Regions from separate parts of the Homo sapiens genome. Here region 1 is linked to region 2. Evidence: fine-mapped expression QTL. A gene starts in region 2. The other region holds a variant in brackets. All regions are shown on one strand. Distances are from middle to middle. Region 1 has its middle 22 kb from the start of MIR483. Region 2 holds the start of MRPL23 (mitochondrial ribosomal protein L23).

Region 1 (12,214 bases), 160 kb after region 2:
GGACAGCTCAAGAGGCTCCGAGAGCTCCCTGTGACATCTGAGAGGCCAGCAGGACGAAGGCCACAGCCAGCAGCCAGGACCTGACCACTTGCCCAGGCTGGTCTGAGCTCCTGGCCAGGGGCCTCTTGGCAACATGACCTGGCAGGTGCTGTCTGTCCATTATTCCCCTCTCACGGATGTCCCCGGCCTCTGTGGACATGACCGCCTAGCCCTGAAACTCCAAATGTACCTTTCTGCCTCTCCTCTTCTCTGTCAGGTGATGCCATCCTTCCCAGGGGCCTTCTGGGCTCTTCACTCCTCTAGGCCCTCAGCAAAGGCTCTCACTCTGCCCTCAGCACACACCAGGGTGCAACCACCCTCACTCCTCCACCAGTCCCTCCCAGTCACTCCCTTCTGTGTGTATCCCAGCAGGTGCCTCCACTTCTCCTCTTGCACTCTGGTCACTCAGCAGCCACAGGATCCCTTCACTCCTAAGCAGAGACCTCCACTAGCCCCACTTCTCTCCAAGAAAAAGCTGCATCCCCTTCAGGGCTTCCTGATGCCTTCCTGGGCAAGCTCCCCTTGGTTTCTCAGGTGTGTTTCTCAACAACCCATGCTTCCTCCCTATCCACCACTCCTCAGAGACGCCACATCACCTCTCTACAAGCCTTGTACCCGCTGCTCCTGCCATGAGATGCTCTCCCCCAGATGTCCATGTGAGTATGTGGTGGGGGCTAGAAAGGTATGTAGATGGGTAAATGGTTGGCTGGGTAGATGGCTGGATGCGTGGGTGGATGCATGGATCCATGGAAGGAAGGAAGGAAGGAAGGAAGAGAGGGAGGGAGGGCAAGAGGAAAGAAGGAAGGAAGGAAGGAAAGAAGGAAGGAAGAGAAGAAGGGAGGGAGGGAGGATGAATGGGTGCACAGATGGGTGCATGGATGGGTGCATGGATGGGTGCATGGATGGGTGGATGAACAGATGGATGGATGAACAGATGGATGGATGGATAAGTGGATGCATGGATTCATGGAAGTAAGGAAGGAAGGAAGGAAGGAAGGAAGGAAGGAAAGGAAGATGGATGGATGCATGGATGGGTGCATGGATGGATGGATGGATGCATGCATGGATGGAAGGAAGGATGGATGGGTGGATGGATACATGAACAAATGAGTGGGTGGATGGATGGATGGATGAATGGGTGGGTGGATGCATGGATGGGTGGATGCATGGATGGATGGAAGATAGATATATGGATAAATAAGTGGGTGTATGAATAGGTGGGTGAATGGACGGATGAATAGATGCATAGATGGGTGGATGCATGGATGGATGGATGGATAGATAGATAGATACATGGGTGAATGAGTGGATGTATGAATGAGTGGGTGAATGGATGGATGAATAGATGCATAGAGGGGTGGATACATGGATGGGTGGATAGATAGATAAATACATGGATGAATGAGTGGGTGTATGAATGGGTGGATGCATGCATGGATGGATGGATAGATGGATGGATAAATGGATACATGTAGGAGTGAGTGAATAGATGCTTGGATGGATGGATGGAAGAAAGGATGGATGGATAGATGAATACATGGATAATGACTGGGTGTATAAATGGATGGGTGGATGGTGGGTGGATGAATGAATGGATAGATGCCTGGATAAATGGATGGATAGATGCATGGATGGATGAATGGATGGGTGGATGCCCTTTCTCTGAATGCCAGCCAGGAACGTAGCCAAGTGGAAAGGCCCAGGTGGGCAGCTGTCTTCCCAGACCACTCACACTGACCTGAGAACAACTGCTGGGCCCCAGGTGTTGAAAGGGCAAAAAGAGATGTACCCAGCTGGACTGTGCAGGTGCTGGCTGCCCGTTGTTTTGAGCCATGCTCTGATTTGTTCCTCTGTGCCTGCTCTGGGGACTTGGCCACTCTGAGCCATCTGCAGGCTTCCCTGGTGTCCCCTGTACCCATACCACAAGCCAAGTTCCTCCAATGTCACCCTTGATTGCTGTCCCTTGTGTGACTCACACTGGTCCTCCCTGTGTGATCATAGGCTATTCGCCTCTGCCACACACCACACTCATCACCCAGGCTAATCTGGGTGGGAGGCAGACTTGTCCAGCGCTCACAGCTGCTGAGCCTCAGAGCCAGGCCAGACCCAAGGCCAGGACTCCTGAGCTCCCCTCCAACTCTCCGTCCTTACAAGCCTTCCTTGCACCAGCCTTGTCCCCTCTGGTCTAGTTGCATCTATTTCACCCCTGCCAGAAGACGGTGTTCGTTGCCTATGGCTGCAGAATAAATTAGTCCAAAACTTAAAACAATAAAGACTTAAAGTGATGGATATTTATCATCTCAGTTTCTGTGGGTCAGGAGTACAGGAGCAGCTTAGCCTGGTGGTTGTGGCTTGGCTTGGCTGCCACCCCCTGACACCCCAAGCCAAGCCACCAGCCCTGGGCCCCAGCCATCTGAAGGTCCTGCTGGACTGAAGTGTCCCCTTCATGCCTGGCAACCTAGTGTGGCTGTCGGAGGGATGCTCAGTCCTTCCACACAAACCTCTGAGGTTTGCGCATCCTCACAACATGGCAGCCAGCTTTCCCCAGAGGGAGTGAAGGGAGAGAGGTGGGGGAAGAAGAAGGATGCTGCAGTGTCAATTATGACCTGGCCTCAGAAGTCACCCGCCGTCATTCCCACTGTTGGTTACACAAATCCATCCTGTTAATGTGAGGGGGGCCGCACAGTGGCCGAATTCCTGGAAGTGCAGATCTAGGCCCATGGCTACCATGACCTGCAGCTGACATGCTCTTCTTTCTTCCACAAATGACATGAAGTGAGAGAAGCAGTGGGCAAGGTAGCCCCAGACTGACCATCTTCTTGTGGTTCCATTGCCGACACCTGGTGACCTGGCCCAGCCAACACCTCCAGCCCCCTCCTCCTTCCCCACAATAGGCTCAGCTCAGGCCACCCTGAGCGCCAGGGGCAAGGTGTGCCTGGAGCTCTTCAGTGAGACAGTGACTGTTTCTGGGGTAGCCCTGGACCCTGAACCCCTCCAGTGCTGAGATAGACGAGGGGTCCCTCCTTACTGTCCCCTTCCCTGGCCCCATGACTCTGCAGATTCCCCAGCCACAGGGCAGGAAGGGTAGAGCCAGCGTTTTGGGTGGGATAGGGAAGGGCCCGGCTGGGAGGCAGAACAGCTGGTGGAGGGTGGGGGAGGCATCCTGAGGCCCTGGGGGACACCAGGGCACCGACTGTACGTTGTTCTCCATCCCCAGCCTGGGCCAAGAGGGCAACCCAGGGAGCCCAGGACCTTGTCCAGCAGCTGAGGCCTCTGAGGGGAGAGTGCCAGAAAGAGTGGGGGTGCCAGGGCTCTGTCCCCCATCTTTCCTGGCTTGGGTTTCTGGGAGAGGGGGCGGGTGTTGACTCCCGGAGGGGCTGCCCTGGAAGTCAGGTGGCCTGGCGGTTCCCAGACCTGCCAGCCCTTGCTGAGGGAGCCTGCAGGCTCTTCTCCTTCCCAGGCCTCCCCGGCATCTGAGAACCTTCTCCCCAGCACTGACCCATGGCTGGGAGAGGGTCAGGGCCCTCAGGGAGCCCGGCTGAGCCAGCACGGGACGCAGGGGTCGGCTCCTTCAGACCCCCCCACTTTCGGGCAGCGGTGCCCACGCCCAGCTGGGCAGGGCCGAGTCCATGAGACCCACTGCCCTCCCCGGGAGCTCCCGGCCAGCCGCCCACTGCAGCAGCCCGTGTAAAAGTAACGCCTGTTATGCCAGGAACGTCACAGGGCCCTGGGGCTGCAGACAAGCTGGGTCTTTTTTTTTTTTTATTATTAAAAAGCAAAACCTAAACCAAGAAAACAAAGTGATTAAGTTTCTCCTCAGAACAGCAGGCCCCACAGAAACGAGGAGCGACCGTCCCACTGGGTGCTTGGACCCTCACCCACCACTCGGGAAAACAGCCGAATTCTTCACACAAACAGGAAGCAGCTGGTCTTCCCTGAACATGAGGGGAGGGCTGGGGCCTCAGCATGCGGGCTGCCTAGAAGGTGGCGCTGCAGCCAGGCCCTCGGCTGGGCTGGGCAGTCCCAGCCCTCCAGGAAACGGCCAGGCTGCAACTCCCCCGCCAGGAACCCCTGGGCTTCGCGCTTGACCAGTGGAGCCGTGCAGGTCAGAGGAGGGTGGGCTCCCAGCACACACCCTTCTCTGCCACGGTGGGCTCAGCTGCTCCACCCAGGCTGCCAAGACCCAGCCCAGAGCACACAAACTAGCTGGGCTTCTCATGGGGTACAATGGGAGTGGGCAGGAGCTGGCAGCCATGCTGGGCAGGTCAAGGGCCTTCAAAGGGCTGCCACAGCCCAGCTGGGGCGCTGAGGCCTGCAGAAGCTCACTCTGGTGGCATTGAGTTGGGGAAGGGGTCTCTGTGAGCCAGGTTCAGAAAGGAAGATGTGAGGCAAGTTTTAAAGAAATGTTTTAAAATAGAAGGGGCTTAAAGCAGAAAAGTTTAGCCTGCCAGAAGTTAGAACATGTTCTAGAGTAACAATAATTAAAACCTCACGGTACTGATGCAAAGATGGAGATATAGGCTGGGGAGGAGAAGTGGAAGTCTGGAAGTGGAACCAGCAACCTACACAAAGAACATTAAAACTCCAGAAAAAAAGAACGCTACAATTTAAAACCACAGCGTAGGATCTCAGAAGCCCTTCCAGCAGAGGAGCACAGAGGAGCTGCCTCAGGCATTGTCTTGAGATAATGTGTTAGTAATTTGTAATAAAATTCAATCAAAGAGAACACTTACATCCACATAAAAACCTGCTCACAAGTATTTATAGCAGTTTTATTCATAATCACCAAAAACTTGGAAGCAACTGAGATCTTTCAGTGCGTGAGTGGGTAAACACACAGCGGTACCTCTATGCCGAGGAATGTTATTCGGTGCTAAAAAGAAGTTAGCTGTGAGCCGCAAGAAGACATGGAGGAGCACCAAATGCATGATACTAAGTGAGAGAAGCCACTCTGCAAAGGCTACGCCCGTAGGATTCCACCTCTATGACGTCCTCGAAAAGGCAAAGCTATGGAGACAGTGAAAAGACCGGTGGCTGCCAGCGTTTGCAGGAAGAGAGGGAGGAAGAGGTGCAGAACCATGACTGTGGGGGCAGTGAAACTACTCTGTCTGATAGTCTGATGGTGGATATAGGGCATGATAACTTGCGTCCAAACTCATAGAATGCACAACCCCTAGAGTGAGCCTGGACCTCAGTGTGTGCTGGTGCTGGCTGGTCAATTCTAAGAGAAGGCCCACATATTGCAACATGTGAATAACAGGGGAAACTGTGGTGGACGCATGAGGCAGGAGGTCCATGGGAACTCACTGTGCTTTCCATGTGATTTTTCTGTAGTCCTAACCCAGTTTTACTCTTGTCCAAGGACCGTCTGTCCATCACTTTTTAATGCCACTCTCAGCAGCTCCCTTTGTGGAGAACAAACCCGAGCCAGGCTGTTTACACGCGCATCCGGTGGGAGCCCCGTGCTCAGGTGCT[C/T]GCTTTTGCACAGGGGGACACTGAGGAACAGAAAAGCGAGGCAACACTCCAGGATTTGAAACAGTCAAAACACTTGCCCCTCTGCTAATTATAAGCACAGCTACTGGCCCCTAAGCCTGGGCTCTTCGACCTCGGTTCTCAAATGTTCCGGCCTCAGGGCCTCTTGCATTCCCCAAAGTTATGAACAAGTCCTTAAAGAGAGTGGGTTGATACGGGGTCACCCCTGCTGATATTTACTGTCTTAGAAGTTACAACTAAGACATTGAAATATTTCAATATTTAAAATATTAGAAATTTTAAAAATAGGTTAAATGAATTAATTTAAAAGTCACAACAGAGGCTGGGCATGGTGGCTCATGCCTGTAATTCCAGCACTTTGGGAGGCCAAGGCGGGAGGATCACTTGAGCCCAGGAGTTCAAGACCAGCCTGGGCTATGTTGCTATGTTACCCAGGCTGGTCTTGAACTCATGGGCTCAAGTGATCCTCCCACCTTGGCCTCCCAAAGTGCTGGAATTACAAGGAGGAGTAATCAAAAAGAAAATCTACAAGCACATAAGGCCATTAAAATATCCTTAATTAAAAAAAAAAGCCAGGTATAGTGGCACACACCAGCTACTCGGGAGGCTGAGGCAGAAGGATCACTTGGGCCTGGAAGGTCGAGGCTGCAGTGAGCCTGGATTGTGCCACTGCACTCCGGCCTGGGCCACAGAGCAAGACCCTGACTCAAAACCATATGAAACAAATGAACACAAAACAGTAAAATCACAACAGCAATAATAAACTCACTACTACACATTAACATAAAATATTTGTTTACAAAAGACAACTAGGCTTTTCAAAACAAAGCAAGTTCCGTGAGAAGAGTGAGATGTCTTTGCACTTTGCGAATCTCTGTGGCTTGCTGGAAGGCAGCGGATTCCCATCACGCCTCTGCAGGCTTTGGCCAGCGCATGGGAAGAATGTAGATGAGGACATCTACGAACATACGTGGTTGGGAGTGGGGGGTGGGGGGCGCTGGTACTTTAATGGCCTTATGCGCTTGTAGATTTTCTTTTTGCTACTACACCAAAACTTGACAAGTGTCATTTCTTCAAGCTTAGCTGCAATGCAGAATCTGAAACCCATGACCTTTAGAGACTCCGTGATGTTACAGTCCCTCAGTTTAGGAAACGACAGAGGCATCATAACCAAATGCACCGGGGCTGGGCGTGGTAGTGCACGCCTGGAATCCCAGCACTTTGGGAGGCCGAGGCAGGCAGATCACCTGAGGTCAGGAGTTCGAGACCAGCCTGGCCAACATAGTGAAACCCTGTCTCTACTAAAAATATGAAAATTAGCTGGACATGGAGGCAGGCACCTGTAATCCCAGTTACTAAGGAGGCTGAGGCAGGAGAATCACTTGAACCTGGGAGGTGGAGGTTGCAGTCAGCCAAGATTGCACCACTATACTCCAGCCTGGGCGACAAGAGTGAAACTCCATCTCAATGTGGCCAGGCACGGTGGCTCACGCCTGTAATCTCAGCACTTTGGGAGGCCAAGGTGGGTGGATCACGAGGTCAGGAGATTGAGACCATCCTGGCTAACATGGTGAAATCCCGTCTCTACTAAAAATACAGAAAATTAGCCGGGCGTGGTGGTGGGCGCCTGTAGTCCCAGCTACTCGGGAGGCTGAGGCAGGAGAATGGCATGAACCCAGGAGGCGGAGCTTGCAGTGAGCCGGGATCGTGCCACTGTACTCCAGCCTGGGTGACAGAGTGAGACTCCGCCTCAAAAAAAAAAAAAGAAAAAAAGAAACTCCGTCTCAAAACAAAACAAAAAAAAAAACAAAATAAACAAATGCACCGTGGACCCTCAATGGGATCCTGGAACAGAAAGAGGATGTGAACAGAAACATTGGTGAACTCCAGATGAAGCCTGGGTTACATTAATAAGTCGAGAAGCAATGTCACACTCTTAATTGTCACAACCATACCACAGTCAGGTGTGACCTTAACAAAGGGGGATTGGGCGAGGGGGGCTGTGTGTACAATCCTTGCAACTCGTCTGTCATCTTGAAATTGTTCCAAAATAAAAGGTGTATTATGGAACGAGTCAACTGGTGTATCTTGCACTTTCCAAGGATCTTTTCCTCTTTTTTGTTTTTATTTTTATTTTTGAGACAGGGTCTTGCTCTGTCATCCAGGCTGGATTACAGTTGCATGATCATGGCTCACTGCAGCCTCAGCCTCCCCAGGCTCAGGGGATCCTCCCACATCAGCCTCCCCAGTAGCTGGGACCATAGGCATGCACCACCACACCCAGCTAATTTTAACATTTTTTGTAGAGACAGGGTTTCACCATGTTGCTCAGGCTGGTCTTGAACTCCTGGGCTCAAGCGATCCGCCCGCCTCGGCCTCAAGGATCTTTTCCTGTGTGTGCCTCTGTAACGTTCCGCATTGATCGTTTGGAAAATATCAATCTCACAATCAGGCAGCTCTTCCAGGAGTGGATGCCATTCTTTATTGTTATGGAAAACTACATTTGTGACTGTCCCCACCAGGCTCCTCAGGAAGGTCTTTAAGGATTGGAAAACCGTCTGGTTCAAGGGGGCAGTTGTAAGTTTCTCAAAATTCTGCTGTTTGCATGAAAGCTCCAAGGTGGTCACCAACAGCAAAATCCAGGAGTTGTTTTTCTCTAAGTGGATCTTTTTGTTCTTCTCTGAGGAAACATCCAGCCGGTCGCCGGTTCAGTAAAAGCGGTGCACGCAGCCCATTGAGCCTGCAACTCAAACCACTGTGCAGGAGCTTTTCCTGGGGACGCTGGCATGCTTCCGGCTACAGTGGGAGTGCTTTGAGCGTGCCTCCGCGAATATTAAAAAGACACACTCCAGGGTCAAGATTTAATAGAATTAATAAAGTTTAATGCTTCATCAAGGACATTCTTAAGTGAGACTGGCAGCTGGCCCACGTCCCATGGGCTGGGAGACCTGGGCTCAGTCCCACCTCCTGCCCCAAACTCAGCCACACCACCCTGTCAGGAGGCTTTGGTGGGATGGTTCCCAGCCCCGTTCATAGACCTGCCCTCTCCCCTGCCCCCTCCACCCTCCACCACCTCACCCTCCCCATTAGATTCTCCTGGAGCTTCTCCTCAAGGTTCCAGGGAGCCCTCACCGACCAGCCCAGACTAGAGAAATTCACTTCCTGGGGCTCCCTCTGCCCATTCCTTACTATCCCGTATGTTCCTTGGCTTCCCCCACCAGGCTGCGAACTTGGCAGAGGCAGATCCCCCGACCCAGCACGGTCTCCTATCTGGCAGTGGTTTATCTCCTACTCGCCCAGGCCAGGACGGCCTCCTGCAGTCCATCCCACGAGCTTGCAGCCATCCCGTAGGGCCCTCTGTCTCAGGCCTGGCAGCAGTGGGATTCCTCTGGATCTGGGAATTCTCTTGACCCCCTGGTGAACCGCAGAGAGCACAGCCCTCGCCTCCTTGCTAATCACAAGCAGAGAGTGGCGGGTGCACGCCTCCTAGCTGGACGGGCCCTGCCCCAAGTTTCTTCTCATGCACAACGTTCAGTGAGGAACTTTCCAGAACGTGCCGGGATGTCAGATCCCAGTGCTGCAGGAAGGAGTTTCCGGGGAGCGCTGGGTGAGCGGGAAAGACCAGGAGTAAGGAGCCGACCCCCTCAGGCTTCCTCTCCCATGTTTTCCACAAGGGAGCCCCCCAGGCCCAGAGGCGCTCAGGGGAAGGCCTCGCCCAAGCTGGGCTTGCCGTCTGCCCTGAGCGCCTGGAAGTGCTCGTGCTCTGAGACAGTGCCAGCTGATTCCCCGACTCATGCCCCGGCATTCCCAGGACAGGGATGCATGGAGGGCCTGACCCAGACACCCCTGGGCACACGGGCCCTGGCCTGGACCCAGCGTTCAGACAGGAACTGGGCCCTAGTGGGAGGATCTTGCCCAGCTGAAAGAAGAGACGACTCAGCCCTGAGCCAGCCACACCTGATGGGGTCCTGCTGGGGCACCACAGAAGCCCTTCCTCGCCACTGCCCAGTGGTGGGTTCAGCGGCGGAGACTGGCCTGTTCTGGGAGACAGAGAAGGGAGGCCGCACACAGGATACTGGCCTCCCTCCTCCAAGCCGCCCTCCTTCCTTGAGGGATCTTCCAAGCTCCAGGTGGTGTTTCCTGGGCCTGAGTGGGGGAGATGCCTGGTGGAGGAGGCGTAGAGGGGAAGGGAGGGGCACCAGGGCCAGAGCAATGGCCCAGAGGGGACACACACAGGGCAGCCTCCTGGTCGCACCCTGAGTAACCCCGGCCTGCCCCTCACTCGCCGGCTGCGGTCTCAGTCTTCTTACCTGGCGGGTGGGGCTGGTAAGCACAGAGCCTGCCCCTGACACATGGGGAGCATTTAGGGAGACACACACAGAGGGCTCTCGGTACGCCCAGCCCCATGAGCGGGAGAAATGTGATGCGAAAGCCCTACCTTCACACCCAGAGTCTGGGGAGGCAGGAGAGCTGGGCAGCAGGCTGGGTCCTCCACCTGCGTAGTTCAAAACTGTACCCTCAAGCAAGCCCTCAGGCCTGACCTGGGGCAGTAGGGAGACCCCAGGTGGGGTCTAGAGCTGGTGCCAGAGGGTCCTAAGCCTCAGAACAGCTTGCCCTTGGCCTCAGGTCAGCAGTGAGGAGTGGAGGCAAACCCTAGGGCTGCCTCTCTGAGTGGCTTTCTGAGCTGGCCAGGGTTGGGCAGGAGGAGGGTGAGGCTGCTTCCATTTCACCTGCACCCAGAGCTGTACCTGGTAGAGGAAGGAAGAGATGACTGTGCTGAGGCCGGGAACTGCCTGGAAGACACAGGCCCACAAACATCTCTGGCCTCAGCCTTGGGAGGCAAGATGGCGTGGGTACTGCCTGACCACAGGAGGACTTGGGGGCACTGGGGTGAGCAACCCCACGGCCCTGCTATTCTCCGCAGCCTGACATCATGCCATCAGGGCAATGGACTCCTTGTTGGCTGTCTGTGCCTCCAGCTGTGAGTCTGCAGTTGCCCGTCTGCTACGTGGCCAATGCCCAGCACAGTGGCTAACCTGGGGCACTCAAGAACAATGGAACGACCATCAACAGGTCCCTGTCTTTCTCAGTTGGCCATCAATTAAAATGCGGAGAATAGCTCTACTTTTGAGGATGAAGTGATAGAACAGATGTACAGCAGGTAGCACAGGGTGACACCCTGTCTGTGGAAACTTCTGGAGTGAAGGCTGGCTTGTAAGGACTAAGACTTGCCAGATAGCAGGTTCATTAGATGTGATGGAAGGTAAGAGAGATGGGGACTGCTAACACCCAGAATTCTGGTGTCAACAACTGAGGGGCTGGGATGGTTATTCCTTGAGATGGGAGGAAGAGCTTCACATGCTAGTGGATAAACTGAGCAGGCATTGGATCTACGTGCCCAATCTCAAGAGGGCGAAACAAGAGTTCCACGTTTGGGAGTCTTCAGGACATATGCCATCATCAAAGCTGTGGTGTGGAAGAGTTCATCCAGGGGGTGAAGTTGGAGGAAGGGAAGGATAGAGGAAGCCCAGGCCAGGATGAGGCCAGTGCTTAATGGAAGGGAGAGCAACAAGGAAAACAAAATGACGGGACAGTAAAACTGGACCAAGTGGCCACAGGAGCCAAAGGGATAGCACATTTCAGGGTTTAAGGAATGTTATTCCATTGTCTTCCAGCCCCCATGGTTTCTGACCAGAAGTCTGTGGCAATTCAATTCACCATTCCCTGCTATGTGGTGCCTTGTTCTCTTCTTTCAAGATTTTCTTTTTTAATTTTCATTTTTATCCATTTGACTTTGATGAGCCTAGGCATGATTTTCTTCAAACTGATCCTATTCAGATTTTGTTTCTTCAAATTGATCCTATTCAGATTTTGATGAACTTCTTGAATCCATAAGTTTATGTTTTTAAAATCAATTTGAGAACTTTTTCATCATTATTTCTTTAATATTTTTTTTTCTGCTCCATTTGCTCTCTCCTCCCCTTCTGGAACTCCAATTTCCTATATATTAATTTTTGGGGTTTTTTTTTCTTTTGAGATGGAGTCTCACTCTGTCACCCAGGCTGGAGTGCAGTAGTGTGATCTTGGCTCCCTGCAACCTCCACCTCCTGGGTTCAAGTGCTTCTCCTGCCTCAGCCTCCCGAGTAGCTGGGATTACAGGCACGTGCCACCATGCCTGGCTAATTTTTGTAGTTTTGGTAGAGATGGGGTTTCACCATGTTGGCCAGGCTGCTCTTGAACTCCTGACCTCAAGTGATCTGCCTGCCTCAGCCACCCGAAGTGCTGGGAATACAGGTGTGAGCCACTGCACCTGGCCATCTGTTAAGTTTTTAACACTATTCACATGTACTTGAGTCTCTTTTCATGTTTTTAAAGCCTTTTCTCTCTCTCTCATTTTCGTATTGAGTTGAATAACTTCTATTGCTCTGTCTTCAAGTTCACAGACTTTCTTCTGTCCTCTCTACACTACTGATCCTTTCATCCAGTATTTTGTTTTTTACTAATTTCAGAGAGTGTATTTTTCAGTTCAAAACATCAATTTAGATATTTTTAAATATTTTCTACTGGTCTGCTGAAATTTCCTGTCATTTCATTCACTGAAAGTGTATTTTTCTTTATCTTCATGGGCATAGTTATAATAGAGGCCTTGTTTGATGATTCCAACATCATGGCTGGCCTCAGT
Region 2 (11,196 bases):
GAGGAAGGTGGGAGGGAGGGGGGAGGGAGAGGGAGGGGCTGATGGGGAGACAAGAAGTCTCTAATGGCAGCTGATTCTGAAGGGCTTCGTCAGGGCAGCACCAACACACCCCCGCCTGCTGTCCTGGTCCTGTCCAAACGCAGCCTCCCATGTGGGTGGGGGGCCTTCTCTTCTGGTTGGGAGAAAAGCCAGGTGGCCACGTGTGTGGCTGGTGATCACAGGCTGGCGCTGCAAGGAGCTTTGAGGCTGCAAGGAGCTCTTGCTGTGCCACTGCACTTCCACACTCCAGCCTGGGAAACAGAGTGAGACCGTCTCAAAACACACACACACACACACACACACACACACACACACACACATACAAAAGCAGAAACCGACCAGGACATTGCTTGCTTGAGACTGGGAAATCCAGGATGGGATGGGGAGCCACACAGGGCACGAGAAAAATTTTGGGGCAATGGGTGTGTCTATCACAGCTCTGGGGAGGGCCGCAGGCTGTTTGGGGGGGTGGTGTCTTCTGGGTTCTATCCTGGTGTAATGCACAATGGCTTTGTGGATGTGAGCAAGCCACATTCCCAGAGCCATGGTCACCCAGCCGGTACACAGGGTCTGAGGATGCTGGACGCAGGCAAGGAGGGTTTGTGGTCCACGCTGTGGCCTGCAGGATGGGCAAGGGCTGGCAACAACCCTTCTGAGCTGCCTGTGCCTCTCCTGTGAGTCCTGCCTGCTCTGCCCCAGGGATCCTGGTGCCTGGGTCTGGCCTCCCCTGGGCTGTCTGGTTCCTGGACAGTGAGAGCCGGTGATCTGCAGCCAGGGCCTGGCACAAGTAGGTGCTGGGTAAAACAAGGGGGTTGCCATTTCTTCCTAATCTTTGAAAACCTGCATTTGAACATGGTGGCTCACTGGTTTGTGCTTACAGTGATTTCGCTACAAGTGTTTGCACCTTTTTGTGTGTTTATTGGCGGGATGAATGAATGAGTCTATGAATGAATGAGTGAGTGTATGTGTGAACAGCCCCTCCCCCACCCTCTGTATGAATGAATGAATGAGTGTATGTGTGAACGGCCCCTCCCCCCACCCTCTGTATGAATGAATGAATGAGTGTATCTGTGAACGGCCCCTCCCCCACCCTCTGAATGAATGAATGAGTGAGTGTATGTATGAACGGCCCCTCCCCCACCCTCTGAATGAATGAATGAATGAGTGTATGTGTGAACAGCCCCTTCCCCACCCTCTGTATGAATGAATGAATGAGTGTATGTGTGAACGGCCCCTCCCCCCCACCCTCTGTATGAATGAATGAATGAGTGTATCTGTGAACGGCCCCTCCCCCACCCTCTGTATGAATGAATGAGTGTATGTATGAACGGCCCCTCCCCCACCCTCTGAATGAATGAATGAATGAGTGTGTGTGTGAACAGCCCCTCCCCCCACCCTCTGTACGAATGAATGAATGAGTGAGTGTATGTGTGAACGGCCCCTCTCCCCCACGACCTGATTCTCATCTGCAGGCTGAAAGTGCTTTCCCAGCTGAATTCGTACGTTCCCTTAAAACCCTTCAGGGACCCTCACTGTAAAAACGCCCCAGCTCCCCCAGCCTGACTCGCAAAGCTCAGTTTAGGGGCTGCCCTTGCAGCGGGGCTCCTGGCTCAGGTCTAGCAGGTGGAAGCAGAAGAGCATGTCCCGACACACCGATGAGAAGTTGCTGAGGACGTGGAGCAGCAGGAAGCACCACCTTTGCAGTGGGAACGCCAAACAGTGCGGCCACTTTGGAAGACCGCGGGGCAGTTTCTTACAAAATCAAACGTCCTCCTACCATACAACCAGCAATGGCCCTCCTGGGTGTTTCTGCAAATGAATTGAAAACTTGTGTCCACCCTAAAACCTGCACACACATGTTTGCAGAGGCTTTATTCATTACTGCCGAGACTTGGAAGTAAACAAGAAGTCCTTCCGTAGGCAAAGGGATAAACCGAGGTACATCCAGACAATGGAACAATATCCGGCCCGAAAAGAATGCACTATGAAACCACAAAAAAACCCAGAGGAGCCCTAGCTGCATCTCACTCATGGCAAGAAGCCAATCTCGAAAGGCTACGTGCTGTATGATTCCAATGATACCACAGCCTGGAGAGGGCAATGCCAAGGCGGCAGTGGAAAGAGCCAGGGCTGCCAGGGGCCGGGGGAGGCAGGAATGCACAGGCAGGGCAGAGGCAGCTTTTCAGGCAGTGACACTTCTGTGTGACACCATAGTGGTGGCTAAAGGACATTTTGCAAGGATGAAACCTGGGGGTAAACTCTGGACTTAATAGTAATGCATCAGTATTGGTTTATCAATTGGAACAGATCACACCACACGATGCAAGATGTTAATAATGGAGGGGCACTCAAGGAGAGGGGGTCTGTGGGAACTCTGTATACTCCCTGAGCAATTTTTCTGTAAGCCCAAAGTTCCTCTAAAAGATAAGGTCTACTTAAAAAGGACCAATTATTGGGCCAGGTGCAGTGGCTCATGCCTGTAATCCTAGCACTCTGGGAGGCCGAGGCAGGTGGATCACCTGCGGTCAGGAGTTCGAGAACAGCCTGGCCAACGTGGCGAAACCCCATCCTTATTAAAAATACAAAATCAGTTGGGCGTGGGGGCCCGCACCTGTAATCCCAGCTACTCGGGAGGCCGAGTCAGGGGAACTGCTTGAACCTACGAGGTGGAGGCTGCAGTGAGCCAAGACTGTGCCATTGCACTCCAGCCTGGGCTACACGTGACCCTGTCTCAAAAAATAAAAAATAAAATACAATAAAATAAAATAAGGGCCAGGCATAGTGGCTCACGCCTATAATCCCAGCATTTTGGGAGGCCAAAGTGGGCGGATCACGAGGTCAGGAGATGGAGACCATCCTGGCTAACATGGTGAAACCCTGTCTCTATTAAAAATACAAAAATTAGCCGGGTATGGTGGCGCACGCCTGTAATCCCAGCTACTCAGGAGGCTGAGGCAGGAGAATTGCTTGAACCCGGGAGGCAGAGATTGCAGTGAGCCAAGATCGCGCCACTGCACTCCAGCCTGGCGACAGAGTGAGAGTGAGACTCTGTCTCAAATAAATAAACAAATAAAAATAAAATGACAATTTATTAGTTGTTTATCTGAACTTCAGATTTAACTGGGCCTGTATTTATCTGGCAGCCTCAACCCCGTGCAGACCATTGATCTCAGGAGAGGCAGGCAGAGCGGAAGCCGCGCTGGCATTTGTGTTCAATGGCAGGTGGGAAGGAGGAAGAGGAGGTCTCCACTGGCTCCCCAGGCATCTCAGAGACCCCCCATACTTAGCATGCCTTCCGGAGGATCCCATTAGCAGACTATCAGAGAAACAGGGATGGAAGGAGTGGTGAGGGGTCTGCTCCATTGTGACCCCACCCCTGCCTCGCCCTGAGGAAGGACCTCAGCTCCTAGCTCAACCGCCGCCCTCCAGCAGCCCCAGTGATCTGAGCAGCACCCACCCGTGACCCACAGCTCGGCCTCCAATCACCCTCCTCTCCACATCGGCCACCCACAACTCTGAACCCAACTTCCAGCAGCCACATATCTCTAAGCACACTGCACAATGTGGCTGCCGAAAGAGGCAGCATTGCATGAACATAAAAGGAAGCCTGAGGACCCCCGGCCCCAGGACCCCCCTTCTCCAGCTCCATCCCTGTCCTGCGGTCTGCTCCTTGGGCCTGGCCAAGGGCACCTGCTGCTGGGCAAAGGCCTGTCTGGTCACCAGCCTCCTGGGACCCTGCCACTGGCAGCCTGGAGCTTCTCCACCTCACGCAGGCCTGGACAACAGTGGGGACGGCTGCCACCACCTTCCCTGCCCACTCTGGCCCACTTCTCACTCCATCCTGCTTCAATGCCTTCATGCTAGATAGACCCCCTGGAGTCATTTCCACTCAAACCCACCCATCAGGAGGAACTCCAGCCCTACCCGGCCCAGGCCCTCGGAGGGGCACAGTGCCCTCTCCTCCTCCTGAATTTCCATCAACCCCAGTGCCCTCCCGCAGCCCTGTTCCCACCTGCAGGCCTGGGCCCCCTGCCCCCAGCAACAACCAGGACCCATGGCCCCGCTTCTTGCTCTGAAGCATGACACCCCTGCCTCTTGCTCTGAAGAACACTTAGGGTGCTGTTGGGTGCGGGAACAAGCCAGGCTTGGGGGTGGGGGGCACGGGCAGTTAAAGAGATAGATGGAGAAGTGGCCTGAATCCAGCCACCAGGCAGAGGAAACCAGGGGAGGAGGGAGAGGCCTGGGGACAGGGGAGGGAGGCTGCTGCCCTCTACTCCCGAAGGGTCCCAGCAGCCCTCCTGGCCAGCACTACCCAAGGAAAGGAGTGAGGACTGGGCCTTGGACGGGGGTCCCTGTAGAGAGGGCCTTGCCAGAGGCTGGAGGGGGCTGGCCAGAAGGGTGGAGAGGGGGTGAGCAAACGGCAAGGCCTGAAGAGGCCAGTGGCCCTCTTGGAGGAGGCGTGGTGGGAGCACCGAGGATGGACAGCGTGGCTGGTGTGGCCAGCGTGGGGGCTGCCAACCGGGCTGGCCAGAAGGGCGAGGTGAGGGGCCCTGGGGTTCCGGGCTCCCGGGTAAAAACAGCCAGATGGAGAGAGGGGCTTCAGACCCCAGGCCCGGGGACCCGCCCTCCCCAGCACTACAGCCCCGGTTCTCCACTTCCAGCTCCCAGCAGCTGCAAGCGCAGCGGTGCGGGGCCAGGCTGTGGCCTGGAGCTGCCAAAGGGCAGGGGCACGGGTGTGGGGGGCGTGCAGGCCGGGGTCCCGGGAGGCAGGGCAGACAGGCCCGAAAGAGTGCGACGGCGGCGGGAGGTCTCTGGGGCTGGGAGGGGTGCGGGCGTGGGCGGGGCGCGAGCAGCAGGGGCGCGGGCCCGGGCTTCAGGCTGTGGGGCCGGGAGTGCGGGGCGGGACTGCTGCGGCCCCGCGTCCTGTGGAGTCTGCGGCGCGGGGAGTGGGGGTCGGGGCGGGGAGGAACGTGGGGTGCGGGACAGGAGGGGGGCAGGGAGGGAGAAGAAGGCGGCGCGGGGCGGGGCGGGCGCAGGGCTGGGGACGGCACGGGCGCGCGGCACGGGCGCTGGCGCGTGCGGGGGGGGCGGCGCGGCCTCCGGAAGCGAGGGGGCGCTGTGCCAGGCGGCGGCCGTGCGGGGCGGGCGCGCTGCTCCTTCCGCCTCGCGGACCCCGGAAGCGCGCGTGGCCGCCATGGCGCGGAATGTGGTGTGAGTAGGGGTCGTCACCCCCCCGTCGCGGGGCGCCCCTTAGTGTCACAAGCAGACGGACCCCACAGGGCGCGCGGACTCCGGGGAGCGGGGTGGGCGTCCCTGGGCCGCCTCCTGGCCCGGGCGAGGCAGGGTTCTCCGGGACCCCCTGTCATGCCTTGAGACACGCGAGGCGGGTGGCGGAGGAGCCCCCCGCCAGGTTTAGGGCAACCCCAGGGGGCGGGCGTGGCCGGGCTGGGGACAGAGGGTCCGAGCCAAACCCATGGAGGCCACGGTGCCCCCGCGTGGGGAGTGGGAGGGTGGCCCGGGGTCAGGCCCGGGGCTGGTCCCGCAGCCAGGGCCGAGGGAGCTGTTTGGAGACGTTTCTGATCGTCACGGGGCGGGGGCCACGTCGGCTGTTGGGTCCAGGCGGGGAGGCCCGGGCGGCCCCCACCGCAGCGCGGGCGCGGCCTGAGGCAGAGGAGCTGGGAATCCAGATTGGGTTTGAGTGGGAAAGGGCAGCTGACCGCAGCCCTCAGGGCTTTGGGGCAGGCAGGGCGGGAGGCCCGGTTCTGCTCAGCCCAGACCCCCCACGCCCACTCTGCATGTTCTCTGGATTCCCAGGGGGCCATCGGGGCGCTGTCCTGCACCACTTCGCCCTCCCCAAATTGAAGCAGGAAGCCCTGCATATTTCTTGGTGAACGAATGACTCAGGCGTAATCAGTAGATGTGGGCTCCCGGGTGGGTTTTGGAGAACAGTAATCAGTGTTTCTGGAGAGGGACGGTCAAGGGGCCAGGGTGTGGCTTTGGAGGCCCCTGCACATAGCTGGGGAGAGAGGGGAGGGTGGCAGGTGGGACCCCCAGTGGAGGAGGCTTCCTTCAGCAGACACCTGGGACCGGTGCTGCGCGTGGCCCTGACCTTGGGGAACACCCAGCACCAAGGAAGAAAAGGTCTGAGTGAGGCCAACACTGCCCTGAGCCTCACGTGAATTCCACGCTGGCCCTTCGCCTGTCCCTGGAGAATGAGGAGGAAGTGAGGGTCAGAGGACCCGGGTGGGGTGTTCCTGAAGGGCCAAGGGTGGTGGGCCCCTGGAAACGGATCAGGTGTGGTTGCCTTGGAGGCAGCGGGGCCCGCTCGCCCAGCAGTGCACACACTCCTGTTGCCAGGGAGCCTTTGCAGGGAGCGCTGACTGGACTTGCTGTGGACTGGATGCAGCTGGGGTGGGGGTGCCGAGAGGGTGGGATCCTGGGTGAGTCACTCGTGGGGCCGTGGGGAGGCAGGCTGGTGGCAGTGAGCCAGGTTTTTGTGTTTTGAGGAAGAAGTTAGTGCAGAGTTCTACTTGAGATAGGTTACCGTGGAGGTGCTTGTGAAATCCCATGCGGAGTGCTTGGGGTGCTCCCTGGGGAGAGTGGGACTGAGGGAACTGAGGGCTGGTGGGCCCACAAGGGTTCGAGAACAAAAGAGAGGCCTTAGAGCCCTGTCCTGGGGCCCTGGGTGTCGACAGTGCAGATTGTTCCAGATCTGCAGGCTCCATGCACAGGCAGCTGGCGCTCCAGCCTGGAGAGGCTCGGCCTGTGGGAACAAGGACAGTGAATCGTCCTGGCCCAACCCCTGCCAGCCTCTCATCTCAAGCCCACACATGGCCCTTCAGACCCTTAGCAAAGTGTGCCCTTCAGGCCCCAAGCCTGGAGACTCGAAAATTAATGGCCTGGGAGCTGTTGAACCCTCTTTTCTACTGTTTACTGGGAGTCCCCAAACTTTGTCTCCACTCCTGCAGTCCCACAGCTGGTCACCAGAGGGAATGTGTGAGCCCCTCGGGTGGCCATGGCTAGCCTGAACCTGTGGGTAAAACAAGTCAGGCCCCTCCACCTCCAGAGCCCACCCTTTCTTCTCGGCCTCTCACTGGGGCCCACCCCTGAAGGCTGCACTCTGAGGCTTGGAAAGGCCAAGGCCATGCCCAAGAGGAGGCTCTGCTGGGGTTGGGTGAGTGAAGACTCAGCCCCACTGGCCCGGCCACCAGGCTGCCATGTGTCAGTGTGGTCATCAGGAGGCCTGGGGTGGACATGATTAGTGATCGGGCTTTGTTACAGGCGCCTTGCCTCTGAGAGGTCCCAGCAGCTCCTGGCCCCTGCCAGGCCCTCAGGCCCAGAGGCTCAGTGCTGCCTACCACTGTTGGCCCTTCAGGAACACCCCACCCAAGGCCTCTGACCCTCACTTCCTCCTCATCTTCCCTAGACAGGCAGAGGCCAGCGTGAAATTCATGTGAAGCCTGGGGCAGCGTTGGCCTCACGGAGCCCCTCTTAACTTGGTGCTGGGTGCTCCCAAGGCCAGGGCCATGTGCAGTGCCTCAGATAAGGCCACCAGAGACCCCTCAAGAGCCCCTGTGCTCCCCGTCCACCAAGACCTGCACCTAGGCTCTCAGACCCCACATCCCCCGAGACCCAGCAGGCCTGAGTTTCTCCTGTGCCCCTCCTCCCCCCAGCTCTGAGGCCCAGATAGAGCCAGGGTGTGCCGGCAGTGGCAGGGGCGGGAACGGGGGTGGGGGACGGTAGGACGGTGCTGCCTGTCCACCCAGCTGAACGTGGGAGAATGCACGAAACCAACTGGCTAGAGATTCTGCACGATCGTCACCTGGCCCCCCAGCCCAGGCAGCGTGCTGGTCTAGTTTGCGGTGGCCACTTGGCACCTCTCCATCTGCCTCTGCTGGCTTTTAGTGGAGTGCTGGGGTGTGGTGCACTCAACTCACATTTAGTGTACTGAATCAGAGTCTTGGCAGCACCGTCTTCCAGGAGCCTAAGCCTGGTTAGCCTGCGTTCTCCATACCGAGGAGCTAGGCCCTGCTGCCACCGGGAGAGTGCGGAGCTGGCCTTTTCTGTCCCATGGTGTGTGGTTCTCTGCAGCTCCACTTCACCCGAGCAGCAGGAGAGTGGGCCGGCCGCGTGGGGTCTGCTCTCCCAGGGGTATCAGTGCCCCAACACACGTCTTTGAGCCTTGCCATCAGCTTATTGGGGGAATGCTGTCTGCGGGGTTCTGATTTTTGTCCATTGGCCTTTTCTAAAGTCTGACCTTGGGGGTCAACAGCGCATGCTCCTTAAGTCGATGCTAGGGACTGGCCGTCCACCTTGGCAGGCCCATGTGAGAAAGGGGCTGTGGGGACCTCTGTGTCCTTGGGTGGTGACCTGCTGATAGCTACCCCGTTTCCCGCCCACCCCTGTTGTGAGTGGACACGCGGGGGTCTGCAGGGTTAGCTACCCTGTTTCCCGCCCACCCCTGTTGTGAGTGGACACGCGGGGGTCTGCAGGGTTAGCTACCCTGTTTCCCGCCCACCACTGTTGGGAGTGGACACGCGGGGGTCTGCAGGGTTAGCTACCCCGTTTCCCGCCCACCACTGTTGGGAGTGGACACTCAGGGATCCGCAGTGTTAGCTACCCCCTTTTCTGCCCACCCTGTTGTGAGTGGACACTCGGAGGTCTGCAGGGTTGGTGTGTCGGGCTGCCTTGGCCTAAGTGTGTGACATGGACCCAATCTCTTCTGTACAGGTACCCCCTGTACCGGCTGGGTGGCCCACAACTTCGGGTGTTCCGAACCAACTTCTTCATTCAGCTGGTGCGGCCCGGTGTGGCCCAGCCCGAGGACACCGTGCAGTTCCGGATCCCCATGGAGTGAGTCCGGGAGGATTCCGGCTGGGGTTGGGGAGCACCCTCGGGGGGATCCCCGTGGAGTGAGCCCGGAAGTTTTCCCGCTGGGTTGGGAGAGTGCCCTCAGGGGGGCCTGGGTCCTGAGTTAAAACAACTCTGCTCACGTGCTAGCCTCTTCCTGCTGGGAAGGCACCTCAGGCGGCCCTGCCCGGCAAGTATTGATGGAGTGCCTGTAGGTGTGGAGCCCGGCAGGCAGGCTGCACGCCGCCCTCCACCCGGGGACGGCTTCACTGGAAGCCTTAAAATTTGGACCTCTGTGCTCGCGTCTTCTGTTGAGTTCTTGCAGCTTCTTTTTAGGAGAGGCGCCCTGAGAGGCTGGGTTGGGAGCAGGCCGTGATGTACAGAACCGCTCAGAAGAGCCTGCTTGACCTTCAGAGAAATGCACAGTCCCTACGAGCAAAACTGGGGTGCTGCTCTGCAGTGTTTAAGTTCACAGGTCCCCAGCTCAGGGTTGATGCGAGCCAGGCGGGGCAGCAGCGTGAGCTCCCCTGGGGGCGAAGGTCAGGCCTGTGCAGCCTGCAGGGGCCCAGAAGCTGAGTTGACAGTGACCGTGAGGTTCTGCAGTAGAGGGAACTTGCAGTTAACGCACCGAATGCCAGGCAGGCCTTTCCAGAAGGTACTTCCTAGAACCGCATCAGTCCCATCAGCCGCAGAGCAGGCCTAACCCTGATGCGGCCACTGGGCCCCGGGGCAGACGAGGTGGGGCACCTGCCAGCCAGGAGCGTGCAGAGACTGTCACCTCCTCTCACAGGCACTTGCCCGGAGCAGGGAGCCATGTGGGGCTGTGGAGCAGGCCAGGGGTTGGTTGGGCAGTGCTCCCACTCTGTGGGGTCTGTGCCACTGCCACCCCATGCTGGTGTGCCCAGAGTAGGGAGTCTTGCAGCCAGCAGCACTGGTGTTGCTGGGGCTGCCTGGCCTCACTAGTGCCGCTGATGTACCCAGCCCTCCTCCCTGCCCCCTGTGGGTCTTGGTCTGTCGGCCTCTCAGCCTCGGGTGCTTGTGCATCTGGGACAGTATTTTTGGCTTTTAGCCTGGTTAAGATGCCGTTTTCTTTCTCCTTCGCCTCCAGAATGACAAGGGTGGACCTCAGGAATTACCTCGAGGGCATCTATAACGTGCCCGTGGCTGCTGTGCGGACACGGGTGCAGCATGGTGAGTGCCCATGGGAGGTTCTCCTGTTGGTGTCGTGCCCATCTGTGCCACATGCCCACCTCGCCGAGCCACAGCCTCAGCTACTGCATGGGGGTCTTGGTCTGACGTGGCTCATGGGAAACTGAGGCACAGGGTGACTTGTCAGGGTCACACGGTGCTTACGTGCCAGAGCAGGGATTGGAATTCAACTGGGCTGGCCCGGGGTCCATTCTGAGCCCTGACTCCTGCCGTCAGCCCCCGAGGTGGGACTGCAGTGGCTGAGGCTGGGGAGCAAAGCGCTGTCTGTTCCATAAGCCCCTGTCGTGTGCCCTGGCTGGTGCCACGTCCGCTCCTTTGTTGAGAACCTGCTGGCCTCTGTTGGGAGAAGGGAGGAGCCTGGGAGCCTGCTGTGCTGGCTCGTTTGATTACAGTGCCCATTTCCCTGAGAAATCGCCTTTTTGAGTTTTTAAAAACATATTTACATTTTTAAGAGAGCAGAGGTTCGTTTTAGTGGCATTGACCTCTGAGGATGTAATTTTTTAAAGTTCTGATTTTTTTAAAGTTCTGATTTTTTTTTCACTCCCTTCCGGCAGGCTCTAACAAGAGAAGAGATCACAGAAACGTGAGGATCAAGAAGCCGGACTACAAGGTCGCCTACGTGCAGCTGGTGCGTGTGAGCTGGCCAGCCCCAGCGGGGCCTCCGAGGGGCTCCTCGCAACTGTGTCCTTGGGGATGTTTGTGCCGGAGACGCTGCGCTGGGGCCCAGGGAGCCCCCGTGAGGCCGGATCTCAGGGCCTCAGCGCAGAGGCAGGCTCCACATAAGGTCATGCTCCGTCACGGCCTTGGGGGTGTTAGTGGTGGCGCTGGGAGCACGTGAGCACTGGGGCACATGGGGCACGTCTCAGCGTCCGGCCGTTTTGTGATTTTGAAGTTTGAATTCTCTGTGGGCAAAGGCAGCCATCACAGGCCTAGTGGGTTTCAACTCCAACGCACACCAGGGTGTCAGAGCATGGGAGGCCCCGGCCTCTGGAGAGCCTGTCCTTGGCTGGGTTTCAGCCTCGGAGGCAGAGTGTGAGGCCCCTGAGGGCAAAGGTCTTTGGTGCCAAGGCAGGTCTGGCTGGCCGGGCTGTTGGCTGA

The links. PIP is the estimated chance that this variant, and not a neighbour inherited with it, causes the effect.
Region 1: its variant is fine-mapped to the expression of MRPL23 in aorta (GTEx, PIP above 0.99).

The regions. Positions count from the first base shown.
Region 1 is chr11:2,105,684-2,117,897 of GRCh38, forward strand. No RefSeq gene overlaps it. Among named protein-coding and RNA genes, the nearest start is that of MIR483, 22 kb to the right of the region's middle. RefSeq lists a silencer at 8,685-8,955. The variant C/T (reference allele first, on the strand shown) is at 5,515.
Region 2 is chr11:1,942,130-1,953,325 of GRCh38, forward strand. MRPL23 (mitochondrial ribosomal protein L23) reads left to right here and starts at 5,203. Exons shown (of 5, transcript NM_021134.4): 1 at 5,203-5,250; 2 at 8,770-8,892; 3 at 9,998-10,080; 4 at 10,653-10,726. The coding sequence starts at 5,234. SNORD131 (small nucleolar RNA, C/D box 131) reads left to right here and starts at 7,202; the gene lies at 7,202-7,347. RefSeq lists an enhancer at 7,132-7,869.